3 linked regions of the Homo sapiens genome follow. The protein of the gene in region 1 interacts with the protein of each later gene in a biochemical or structural test. Each region holds a gene or a part of one and is shown in the gene's direction. Other genes may lie near its edges. The genes, in order: IRF8, TOP1 and IRF1.

Region 1 (3,600 bases):
TTTGCCCTGTTCGGTAGCTGCAGTTTATTTCCTCACTCTTGTCCCTATCTTTCAGTTGGTCGTAGGAGTTGCCCAGGAAGGAAGTTTGGATAATAATAATGACATCTGGCATGTAAGGTCCAGGCCCTGTCTCAGTTGCTTTCCGTGTAGCATCTGAATTCTCTTACAACCAGTACAGGTAGTGTTTTGTTAGCTGCATCTGGGACTGGGTAGCTGATGCCCTGAGTTTAAATGCTGATCCAGCGTCTCCCAGCTGAGCGGTGGCGGGACTTGAATGAGATCGCGGTTCTGTCTCATTCTCAAACTGCTGCTCTTATCACTGTGAAGGAACAGCTATTTAGATGGGCTGGCCTGAGGGCCTCCTCTTTCCCAGACGGCACGGACGCAGTATTCTATCAGGGAATGTGGGGCCAGCTGGGCATCTGGTAGCCCAGTTGGTTCTTCGGATAATGGGCTGCTCAGTGAAGGAACCTGGTGCTGTAAAAGTGATTCCCCCTCTCCTTCCAGTCTTGGGCTAAAACTGGAGCTGTTCACTGTGGTTGTATCTGCCTGAAAGGAAAGGGCAGATGAAAGCTGGAAGGAGCACAGCCAGCACAGTGGGAGGGGCCTGCAGGGGGCTGCTGGTGGCTGCAGGTTTCCCACGGAGCTTTCAGTTTGCACTCAGGGCTGTGAGGTCATGGAGGCCAGCATTGCCTTCTCATGGCAGGTGTCCCGGAGTCCCTGAATCTGTGGGTTTCCCCCAAGCCAGCACCTTTGCTGCAAACCTCTGAGTTTCCTGTTAGCAGTTTTTGGGTTGCTGTGATGAATGAGACAATATCCGTAATATCACAGCGTGTATTTCTGTCTTTCCAAGGATGTGTGACCGGAATGGTGGTCGGCGGCTTCGACAGTGGCTGATCGAGCAGATTGACAGTAGCATGTATCCAGGACTGATTTGGGAGAATGAGGAGAAGAGCATGTTCCGGATCCCTTGGAAACACGCTGGCAAGCAAGATTATAATCAGGAAGTGGATGCCTCCATTTTTAAGGTAAAGAGCCCAGCTCCCTTCCCCACTGTGGGCACAGTGTCTCCTTTCCCTCATGGACTAGTGGAGATGTTGAGTGACATCTTTCTCATTTACTTAAAAATTAATCCAGTTTTTTAAAAGCAAACATTGGTTCAGGAGTGCTGAATGTGTCTCAGACATGTACATGAGCTGATTTCACATCTTTTGAATTACGGAGTCACTTTTGTGGTCGCTTGTATTCTGATGAGGAGATCGAAGGCTCTTTTCTTCTCTTTTCTGCTGCTTCCTTTTCCTGATGAGCCAAGTGGGAGAAAATACTTCGAGACCTTCACGCTAAGACCTTTCCCCACGGGCTTCCATTAGAGGCGATGCATATACCAGGGAAGGTTTCAGTCCTTGTTCTTTCAAAGCTGATACTTCTGCCTGGCATTGTAGGGCCAGCTCAGGAGGGTGAGATGCCATCTGTCATTCCTTTGGGGGCTGGGCCGTGTGGGGGGTTGTGAACCTGCAGCAGATGTCTAAAAATAGTCTCACCTCCCTTGAGAGTAATCGGTTCCCCATGCGTGGAGAGACGTGATGGAGGGTTTGTTCTGTGCCAGGCCTGGCCCACGGCTTGTTTTCTGCTCACATGATCCTGTGTGGTAGATGCTGTTCCCACCCTCATTCTATAGAGGCACTGAGAGGAGAAGTGACTTGTTGAGGTCTCACAGCTCTTGTATGACGGAGCCAGCATTCAGATGCAAGATGGCCCAACTGTGAACCCTTGGTCCTAACTCCAGAATAGCTGATCAACAGAGATTTCTTGCCATTACACCTAGATTCAGACAGAGGAACCAGGAATTAGGGCAGCCCAGCTCTGCAGACCAGCTGGGCTATCGAATCCCTTGTGGGTCATCAGAGTCCTGTGTGGGCATCTCTAAGGCTCCAGATGTCCAGGTTTCACCTCTGGGAGATTCGGAGCCCAAGGTCAAGGTCAAGCTAGACTTCCACGTTTGCCAGTGTGGACACTACACGTAGTCTGAGTCCTAGCCCAGGTTATAAGCCATTGCCATGTGTGCTTATTCTCTTGCATTTGGGGGCCAGAGATGGGGAGGGGAGAGTGAGTGTGGGAGAGGGGTGAAAGGGGCTGAGTTGTTGGGGGCCAGAATCAGACCTGAGACCACAAACAAGGTGTGGAGGGGGTCAAGGCTGTAGGAGCCCATGACAGTGCTGGACTCCCAGCCACAGATGACTGTCCCCTGACACCAGAGAACAAAAATGACAAAAGATCACACCTTAACCCCAGAGTGGACCATAAATAGGTCAAAGGTAGCTTAAGATGCATTTTGGTCCTGCACGTCTCTGCCTGACCGATGTTTGCAGTGGGGCTGTGCGTTTCAGTAATTCTGTTAAATCTGCAATTTGAGGTTGCTGATCTTCTTGAGAATCTGATGCCCATTACTGACCACGCCAAGGAATATGGGGACAAGGGAACGCTTTGCACTCACTTTCGAGGGGTCCCTTGGTGCCCCCACACGTTCCAGATTCTTTCTGATCAAGGACCCCAGGTCAGGGAGCCTCAGCACCAAGAAGTTTTGTGATGCCACTGCCTGCCTCCTCACCCTTAGTGCCATTGTGGATTTCTCTCTTGTTTGATTGCAGATCTTTTTTTTTTTTTTTTTTTTGCCTTTGGCATCATGGTGAACTTCTCTTGGGAAGGACTGCAAATGTAAACAGTGCCAGAGTCCCATTCAGTCGGTTGGGAACTCTGCATTATAGATAACCCCAAAAGCCGGAATTTCTCTGCCTCGCCACTGTTGATGTCTGGGTCTGGGCAATTCTTTGTTGTAAGGGTTCCCTATGCCTTGTGGGATGTTTAGTGGCATCTCTGACCTCTACCCACCAGATGCCAGTAGCATCCCCTCCCCTACTGTCACAATCAAAAATGTCTTGGACATTGCCAAATATCTCCTGGTGGGGCAGAGTCTTCCCCTCCCCATTAAGAACCCTGATAAGAGCTGGCCACTGCCAGGATCAACAGACTTAACCAGAGGTGTTGGGTGCTGAAGGCACAGTTGCAGGTTGGACATCAGTAAAACATCTTTAAGACATGGCAGAGGGTGCTGGACTAGGCTGTGTAGCCCTGACATGTGGCATGCTGACGGAGACGAAGCTTCTCCCTTCACCCCATTCCCTACTTCAACTTGTGCTCGGGGGGTAATGAAATAAAGCCCCAGATTTATACATCTTATGCAATGTTCTTCATGGCCGTTTCAACAGTGTTGAGAAAAATGTGCAAGATTCCCAATGTTTCCGTTGGTTACGCAGTCGCCTGATGTGGCAATCTGAAATGAGTCTACCATCTCAGCAGGAATGGGGCCAGGAGGGAGACGCGGGTGCCCACTGGAGCAGGGAGGCCATCGGGAGGGCCACCAGTGCCGGTGGAGACATGGCGCCAGCAAGAGCCCATCATGTGCTTCCCTGAGCTATGCTTCTTCCCATCCATCCTCTGAGAGGCCTGTCTCTGTGACGTTGGCCGGATAGATCTTTGGCTGTTGGATGAAGTCAACCTCGGTCAGGTAGAGCCATCTTAGGGATTTTCCGGTTATGTAGA
Region 2 (3,822 bases), on another chromosome or scaffold:
TGGTTTGTTAAGCCCACCAACCTGGGCCAGGCTTGGTGGCTTACGCCTGTTATCCCAGCACTTTGAGAGGTCAAGTAGGGCAGATCCCTTGAGGTCAGGAGTTTGAGACCAGCCTGGGCAACATGGCAAAACCATTATCCAGGTGTGGTAGTCCACACCTGTAGTCCCAGCTGCTTAGGAGCCTCAGAAGGATTGCATGAGCCCGGGAGGTGGAGGCAGCAGTGAACCGAGATTGTACCACTGCACTCCAGGCTGGGTGTCAGAGTGAGACCCTGTCATACACACACACAAAGATTGAAATACTTCATAGAGAGGCATCATGTAACCCTGTATTCTGGAATTCTTTTCCTCTTTCCCTAACTTCCCACTTGTAGGGCAATAAACTTGACAAGATTGTGACTGCACTGGCATAAATTACTCCTAGGGCTGCCAGAAGGAGCAGGTAGTATAGCTTTGACCTAAATCTGTTGCTTTGTCTCCTCCAGACTGGTATTCTGAATAAGCATCTTCAGGATCTCATGGAGGGCTTGACAGCCAAGGTATTCCGTACATACAATGCCTCCATCACGCTACAGCAGCAGCTAAAAGAACTGACAGCCCGTAAGTATTGCTTGGCCAGATAGGGCCCACACCCCTACTAATGGTATCCGGTGACCTTGCTTATCTAAGGCCTAGAGTCAGTTCTACTTTTTTTCCCTACCATTGTGGTCAGACACTTTTTCCCTTTAGACCTCTAGTAGCGAGATAATGCTTTGTTGTATAAACATAGGATCAATGCTGTTTCCCCCTTCCCACCCCAACTTCAAGATTAATTTCATGGAATGCTGACAGCTTTTCACCTGCTACAAAAATGCCTGCATTTGTGTTTTATACATATATTACTTAAAAGCCCACAGAGTGAAGACAGTGCTGTGATGTTCTGTTAAATTGGAGAGAGTAAAGTTGTCATGGTTACCAGAAAAATACAGGAACAAGTCCTTTCCTTGAGGTTTCTGTCATTTTTTTCCCATAAGAGAGTAGATACTTTCTATAGCTGATTTTTAGAATATTATCACCAAGATCCACGGGCTTTTTTTTTCCTGGAGCCCAGTCACTATTGAATTTCCACTGCCCTCTGTAAATACATCAGATGGCCTTAGAATATGAACCAGAAAAGCCAGAGGTAGGTATGTTGAGGGTCAGTATTTTAAGGTGGTATAAAGAATGCCACACTATACAAATAAAAACAATTTTTTTGGATGGCATTTTTAATTTTTCTTTTTAAATAAGATACTACCAGGCCATGTGCAGTGGCTCACACCTGTAATCCCAACACTTGGGTAGCCGAGGCAGGAGAATCACTTGAACCCAGGAGTTCCAGACCAGCCTGGGCAATGTAGTGAGACCTTGTCTCTACTAAAATTTCTAAAAATTAGGCAGGTGTGGCGGTGTGCACCTGTCATCCCAGCTACCTGGGAGGCTGAGCCCAGGAGTTTAGGGCTGTAATGAGCTACGACCATACCACCGCACTCCAGCTTGGGTGACAGGGTGAGACGCTATCTCTAAAATAATAATAATAACCATAATAATACTACCAACTGTGGCTTAATTTTTTTTTTTTTTTTTTTTTTTTTGAGACGGAGTCTTGCTGTCACCCAGGTTGGAGTGCAGTGGCGCGATCTCGGCTCACTGCAAGCTCCGCCTCCTGGGGTTCACGCCATTCTCCTGCCTCAGCCTCCCGAGTAGCTGGGACTACAGGTGCCCGCCATGTCGCCCGGCTAATTTTTTGTATTTTTAGTAGAGACAGGGTTCACCGTGTTAGCCAGGATGGTCTCGATCTCCTGACCTTGTGATCCGCCCGCCTCGGCCTCCCAAAGTGCTGGGATTACAGGTGTGAGCCACCGCGCCCGGCCAAAATTTTTAAACTTTTAACGTCCCTTCAATTCCTCGTTCTGTTCTGGCTACATTGGGTGGAGAGGTGGGGAGGTAGGAAGTGGCCAGTATAGAACTTATGAATATGGGCAACAAACCATAGTAATATCAGCAGCACCTATGATGAGCATATGGGTGGGGAGGAAGCAAGGAGATGAAGGGTCCCTAGCCAAGTTCCCTGAGTAAAAAGAAAGGTGTAGATTTTATTATATTACCTAGACTCAGAGTTCCTCTTGTGATAGGAATTTACCCAGGCCAAGCTTACATATAAACTTCCTACTATCATTTTCTTAAGACTGTTGACTCAAATTTTGACCTTAGTCCTTGGGGGCAATTTGAATTAATCATCTGAGTAAGATAAGAGCCAGCAAAATCATGGGGACGAGGCACTGGGGGAAGACATACTGTGTGTTCACTTTTGGTGTACAAACTGACCCTCTTGCTACCATGTTCCTTTCTTTACAGCGGATGAGAACATCCCAGCGAAGATCCTTTCTTATAACCGTGCCAATCGAGCTGTTGCAATTCTTTGTAACCATCAGAGGGCACCACCAAAAACTTTTGAGAAGTCTATGATGAACTTGCAAACTAAGGTATCTTGGATAAAATGAAGGGAACTGTGTCTGCTGTGGGCAGATTATCTGCGAATGAGAGGATTCAGGGCTGAGATATCAGCAGGCCAGTGCTGGGTCTGTTGTAGAAGGTCTATGCTAAAGATAAACAAATGGAAATATGATAGTAGTTAATCTCTGATCAAGATACTGAATATCAGAGTATCCATTATTCAAGAAATCTTTATTCTACGCATAGAAGTTCTATACTGGCCACTCCCTATTTTGAAAAACTAACTTTGGTGTACATTCTAATTGCTAATTACTGTCCTTATTGTACATGAGGAAAGTGGATTTAAAGAGAGTCTTCATAATTCCTTGCTACAGCCCAGAAATACAGCCATTTCCAAATTAGATTGTTTCAAATTGAAAAGATGATGAAACAATTATATATTTAAAGTCTTTCAAATCCTAGCATAGCTATTTTTATTTTTACGCATTCCACATGAATCATATTTTTATATAGTTCATCATCAAACATCTGTTGAATACTGGCCGTGTGCCAGACAACTTGCTGCCCTAAAGGGAAAGACTGGTGTGCAAATAGGTGCTATTCCTTGTCCCTGAGCCTCTTTCCTCCTCCTAACTCCGCCTGGTACTGAGCTTTTAAACCATAAGGCACTTAACATTTGATGATGAACATTTTTGTGTTAGCAGTGACTTCATAACTAATTCATCCTAACATGGTGGTCCACAGTGAGAATTTGCAGATATTTCATTATAGAACAGATACACAGGGTTAAAAAGGAAACAAATTATATTGAAATACAGTTATCAAAATACATTTTAAAGTCCGATAATAGATGTGCTTCCTTATTAAGGTCTTGAGGTGGCCTGTAGTAAATTTCAAGGTAGTAATTAATTAATATCAATGATACTTTAAGATTTCTGCAGCAATTCAAATATGAAATGAAGATGTCTAACATCTATTGATGATAAAGTCATAAGTGCTGCTGCTATTACTATGGTTTGTTCCCCATATTCATAACTGAAGAAGAAATACTAAATTTCAGCTAGAAGCTGGGTGCAGTGGCTCACACCTGTAATCTCAGCATTTTGGGAGGTTGAGGTGGGAGAATCACTTGAGCTGAGTAATTCAAGACCAACCTGGGCAACATAGTGAGACCCTGTCTGTATTAAAAATTTAAAAATAAATATAAATAAGTTCCAAAAAGAGGTTATTGAAATTATAGATTTTTTCTCATCCAAGTTCATGGAATTCTATACTTGTACAACTGGAGTTTAAGAACTACTACTGTGGAATGAGACTGCATTTTAAGGCCCAGAATATTTTCCATTT
Region 3 (3,822 bases), on another chromosome or scaffold:
AAACTTCCTTTCCCTAATCTCATCCTGAATTTTCCAGTGGATGTGTCAGGTTCTCAGGGGAAGGACAAGCATCTATTTGCTGTACCAAGAAAGGATCCCACGACTCAGGGGTCACTTGTTTTCTCTTATTCTTGCTCAGAAGGTCTTGGTCCCTGTAGCAAGTCCCCACTTCCATTTGTCACTTAAAGTACCCCAAAACCCACCTTTCCATTCCAGAGTGTCATTGCCCTCCACTTTGCTTAACACTCAGTTAGGTTCCTTCCTCAGTTTCTCCTACCTCCTTTCCTCTCCTAGCTCCTGACCCACCTCTATCTGGTAGACAGTTTTGCCCATTCCTGCTGGTATCCTGGGAACCAGGTTTGGCATTGGTCACAGCACTCAGATTGCAATGCGCCAGAATGGGATTAACCCATGCATTTCCTCTACGGGAGGGAGGTAGAGTGACTGGCAAGTCGAATGTTGCATGGGTGTGTCTATTTATAGCCTGCAAAATGGGGTGCTGCCCTGGAGGGAGAGCTGGGGTGAAGGAAATGACACGCCTGGGAGAGTAACTTACTTCTGCAGGAGCTTTAGGGAGATGAAGGAAGAAGCCTCCTGGGCCAGAGTTTTGGATGGAAAATGAACACCCAGTCAAGTCTCTAGGACTATACGTGGGGCGGGGACTAGTTGTGCGCGAGAGTTAAGTAGGGGCCTTACCAAGGAGCATGGGACCTGGGCTCCCCAACCCTTTGGCTAGCCCCATGGCGTTGATCAGCCCTGAGCTAATTCCTCCATGCTGCCCAGAACCTCTCTGGGCCAAGCCCTGGGGACTCAGAGATGACAGCAATGCTTCCATTGCGGAACTCCCATACGCGGGCCACAGGGAGGCTCTGGAGGCGGCCTGAGGCAAGAGTGCTAGGAGGGATCAGAGCTAGCCCACCCCTACCCTCACTCAGCCGTCTGGGCTTCTCTGAACCCCTTCTCCTCCTCTGTTCCCTAAAGCCAGCCAGGGGGAGTCCCAGGGAGGCAGACCGAAAAGGGGTGGGGTGTCATCCTGGTCACTATTAGACCCTGCAACGGCGACCTTGAAAACTACTCAGCGTCTGTTGCCCGAGTGGAGCATAGTGCTTTACAATCTCTTCCCATCACAGCAAACCATCAAGGTAGGGCTACTATTATTTTATGGTTGAAAAACAGAGGTCCTGCGTCCCTTGGGGGCTGTGCCAGCAGCGGCCAAGTTGGGATTTCCCCTGGTCCAGCAGCCCCAGACAGCACACGGGGCAGGGTAGGCTTTCTGCCTTCTTCACTTCCCCAGGGCAGGTGAGTGACCTGGAGGGAGGGGGTCACCCCTAAAAACAGGGGTAGTGCTAGGACTGAAACCCTCCCTTCTTGATATCCCACTGGCAAGCTTGAGGAGCCAGGCTGCCAGTCGGGAGATTCGGCCCAGTGTTCCCACTGGAGAGGGCGGCAAGTGCCCGGGCGATCCCCTCACCTGCGTTCGGGAGATATACCCCCGCCCCCGCCCCGCCAGGAGGGTGAAAAGATGGCCCCAGGAGCCAGCCGGCTGGGACAAGGCGGAGTGAGAGGACAGGCTGGGGCCAGGGGCGCTGGGCTGTCCCGGGCAGCCCTCCTCCGGGCAAGCCGGAGCAGGGGTGGATTGGGAGCGCTCGGGGCGGGCCCGCGGTGGCCCCGGGGCGGTGGCGCCCGGCCGGAGAGGGTGGGGCGGAGCAGCCGCCCTGTACTTCCCCTTCGCCGCTAGCTCTACAACAGCCTGATTTCCCCGAAATGACGGCACGCAGCCGGCCAATGGGCGCCCGCGCGGCTGTCCGGGGGCGGGGCCGGCCAGGGCTGGGGAATCCCGCTAAGTGTTTGGATTGCTCGGTGGCGCCGCTGCCCTGGCAGAGCTCGCCACTCCTTAGTCGAGGCAAGACGTGCGCCCGAGCCCCGCCGAACCGAGGCCACCCGGAGCCGTGCCCAGTCCACGCCGGCCGTGCCCGGCGGCCTTAAGAACCCGGCAACCTCTGCCTTCTTCCCTCTTCCACTCGGAGTCGCGCTCCGCGCGCCCTCACTGCAGCCCCTGCGTCGCCGGGACCCTCGCGCGCGACCGCCGAATCGCTCCTGCAGCAGAGGTGAGTACGCCTTTGAGGCGCGGGGCACCGGCGGCGTCGAATAAAAGGCGCGCGGGGCACCAGGAAGTGGGGGGTCGAAAGCTCCAGGCTGGAGACTCGCCGGCGCGCGGCGTTGCCCGGGCCTCCGCGCGGGCTCCGGGGGGCGCCGGAGGAGCTGCGAGCCGCGGGCCGCGGCGCGGGGAGGGCGGGACGCGGCGTGGACCGCCCACCCGGACGAGGCTGCCGGCGCCCGGCAGCTTTCGCAGATCTGCGTGCGCGCAGCCGCCAGGGGCCTGTAGGTGGCCCGCTATGTTCGTCCCGCGCATCCACACGCCGTGCCGGGGACCGAGTGTCAGCCCACGCGTGGGCGCCCAGTGCTCCCGGCTTTCGGCGGTCCCAGCTCCGCGCCCAGGCGACAGGTTTTGGGCTCCCTGTGCTGGTGGCAAGGGCTGGCTTACTGCCCAGGTGGCTGGAGGGAATCGTGACCTACGGAGACTGCGGGAAGAGGCGCCACAGGTGTTCCTTGGGCCACTTCTCCAGAGGAGGGGAAACCGGGCCGGAAGGGTTAGCGTCCTGGTCTTAGCGTTGTGGGCGCTGTGGCTGTCAGGAAGGCGTAGAATGGATTCAGGGGGGCGGGAGGGGGCTGTTCAGGGTGACGGCTAGCCCTTTGCTAGCTAGTGGTTACAACTCAAGTCAAGGGAATTTCTTCTTGGCATCAAGCAAAAGAAGTCCCTCCCTTCCCAAAGGATTTGAATTTTGAGCGAAAAGTTCTGAAATTAGGGTATCTGTGCATTTTGTCTCTTTTCCTGCATATGAATCCTGAAGCCATCACTTGCATGCCTGTCTCCTCCAGAGACTGGCTGGGAGGGGCTGAAGGAAGGGGCAAAAGCATTTTTGCCTAAGATGCTGAAAAAATTTGGAGAGCAGTTTTATTCCAGCGCAGCTCCCCTCCGCACTGAGTGTAGTACCTAGCAGCTGGCTGAGGTGAGGGGAGGGTAACTAAGTGACCTCGGGTGGGGCAGGTCACTGCCCAGGTACTGTTCAACAGATTCCAGACTGGAGCCTCTGTGTTCTCTTTACAGCCAACATGCCCATCACTCGGATGCGCATGAGACCCTGGCTAGAGATGCAGATTAATTCCAACCAAATCCCGGGGCTCATCTGGATTAATAAAGTGAGTGTAACTCTTTGGGTTTTCCTGCCACTGTTTTAACCCATGTACTTCTGGAGGGACCAAAGCTTCAGATGCAGCTCAAAAAGGGAAGTGATAACGGGACAAGCAGGTGTTTCTCCCAGTGGGTCCTGCATGCAGGGAGTGTGCACGGCCCAGCCTGGGCCTCACTTGCATGACTCCTGCCTTCTTCCCTTCTTGAGGTAGGGCACCCACCTGAAGGCACTTCCAGTTTCCAGCAGCAAGACTTTCCAGCATCTGCAGAGCTGGAGTTCTGCTCTCCTCTAAGCGAGACCCTTACAAACATACACAGCACTCTGCAGGGCTCCAATCGAACAAATAGAAGACTGAGAAGTGGATGCTGCTGGGCAGAAACGTGCCTGGCTTAGCAGAGGACAAACGAGTTAATCTTGCACCAGTCACTCTGGCCCAAGAAGCCTATAGCTGGTGCACTTGGGGCAACATAGACCCTATAGACTTAGTAGCAATGATAGTATTCATAATAATAGCTAATGCTTACTGAACACTCCCTGTGTGCCTGGCACCTGCTAAGTATGTTATTTA

What was found.
Region 2: the proteins of IRF8 (region 1) and TOP1 interact in a test that uses a peptide from one of them, tested with the Homo sapiens proteins (one study listed by BioGRID).
Region 3: the proteins of IRF8 (region 1) and IRF1 form a complex in vitro, tested with the Homo sapiens proteins (one study listed by BioGRID).

Annotation. Positions count from the first base shown.
Region 1 is NC_000016.10:85,902,162-85,905,761, forward strand, and holds part of IRF8 (interferon regulatory factor 8), read left to right. Parts: intron 1-55; exon of another isoform or gene 56-699; coding exon of another isoform or gene 700-728; intron 729-853; coding exon of another isoform or gene 854-854; coding exon 855-1,028; intron 1,029-3,600. UniProt on the Homo sapiens protein: Transcription factor that specifically binds to the upstream regulatory region of type I interferon (IFN) and IFN-inducible MHC class I genes (the interferon consensus sequence (ICS)). Can both act as a transcriptional activator or repressor.
Region 2 is NC_000020.11:41,115,793-41,119,614, forward strand, and holds part of TOP1 (DNA topoisomerase 1), read left to right. Parts: intron 1-485; coding exon 486-600; intron 601-2,376; coding exon 2,377-2,504; intron 2,505-3,822. UniProt on the Homo sapiens protein: Releases the supercoiling and torsional tension of DNA introduced during the DNA replication and transcription by transiently cleaving and rejoining one strand of the DNA duplex.
Region 3 is NC_000005.10:132,488,831-132,492,652, reverse strand, and holds the start of IRF1 (interferon regulatory factor 1), read left to right. Parts: upstream 1-1,879; 5' UTR 1,880-2,108; intron 2,109-3,169; 5' UTR 3,170-3,174; coding exon 3,175-3,261; exon of another isoform or gene 3,262-3,822. UniProt on the Homo sapiens protein: Transcriptional regulator which displays a remarkable functional diversity in the regulation of cellular responses.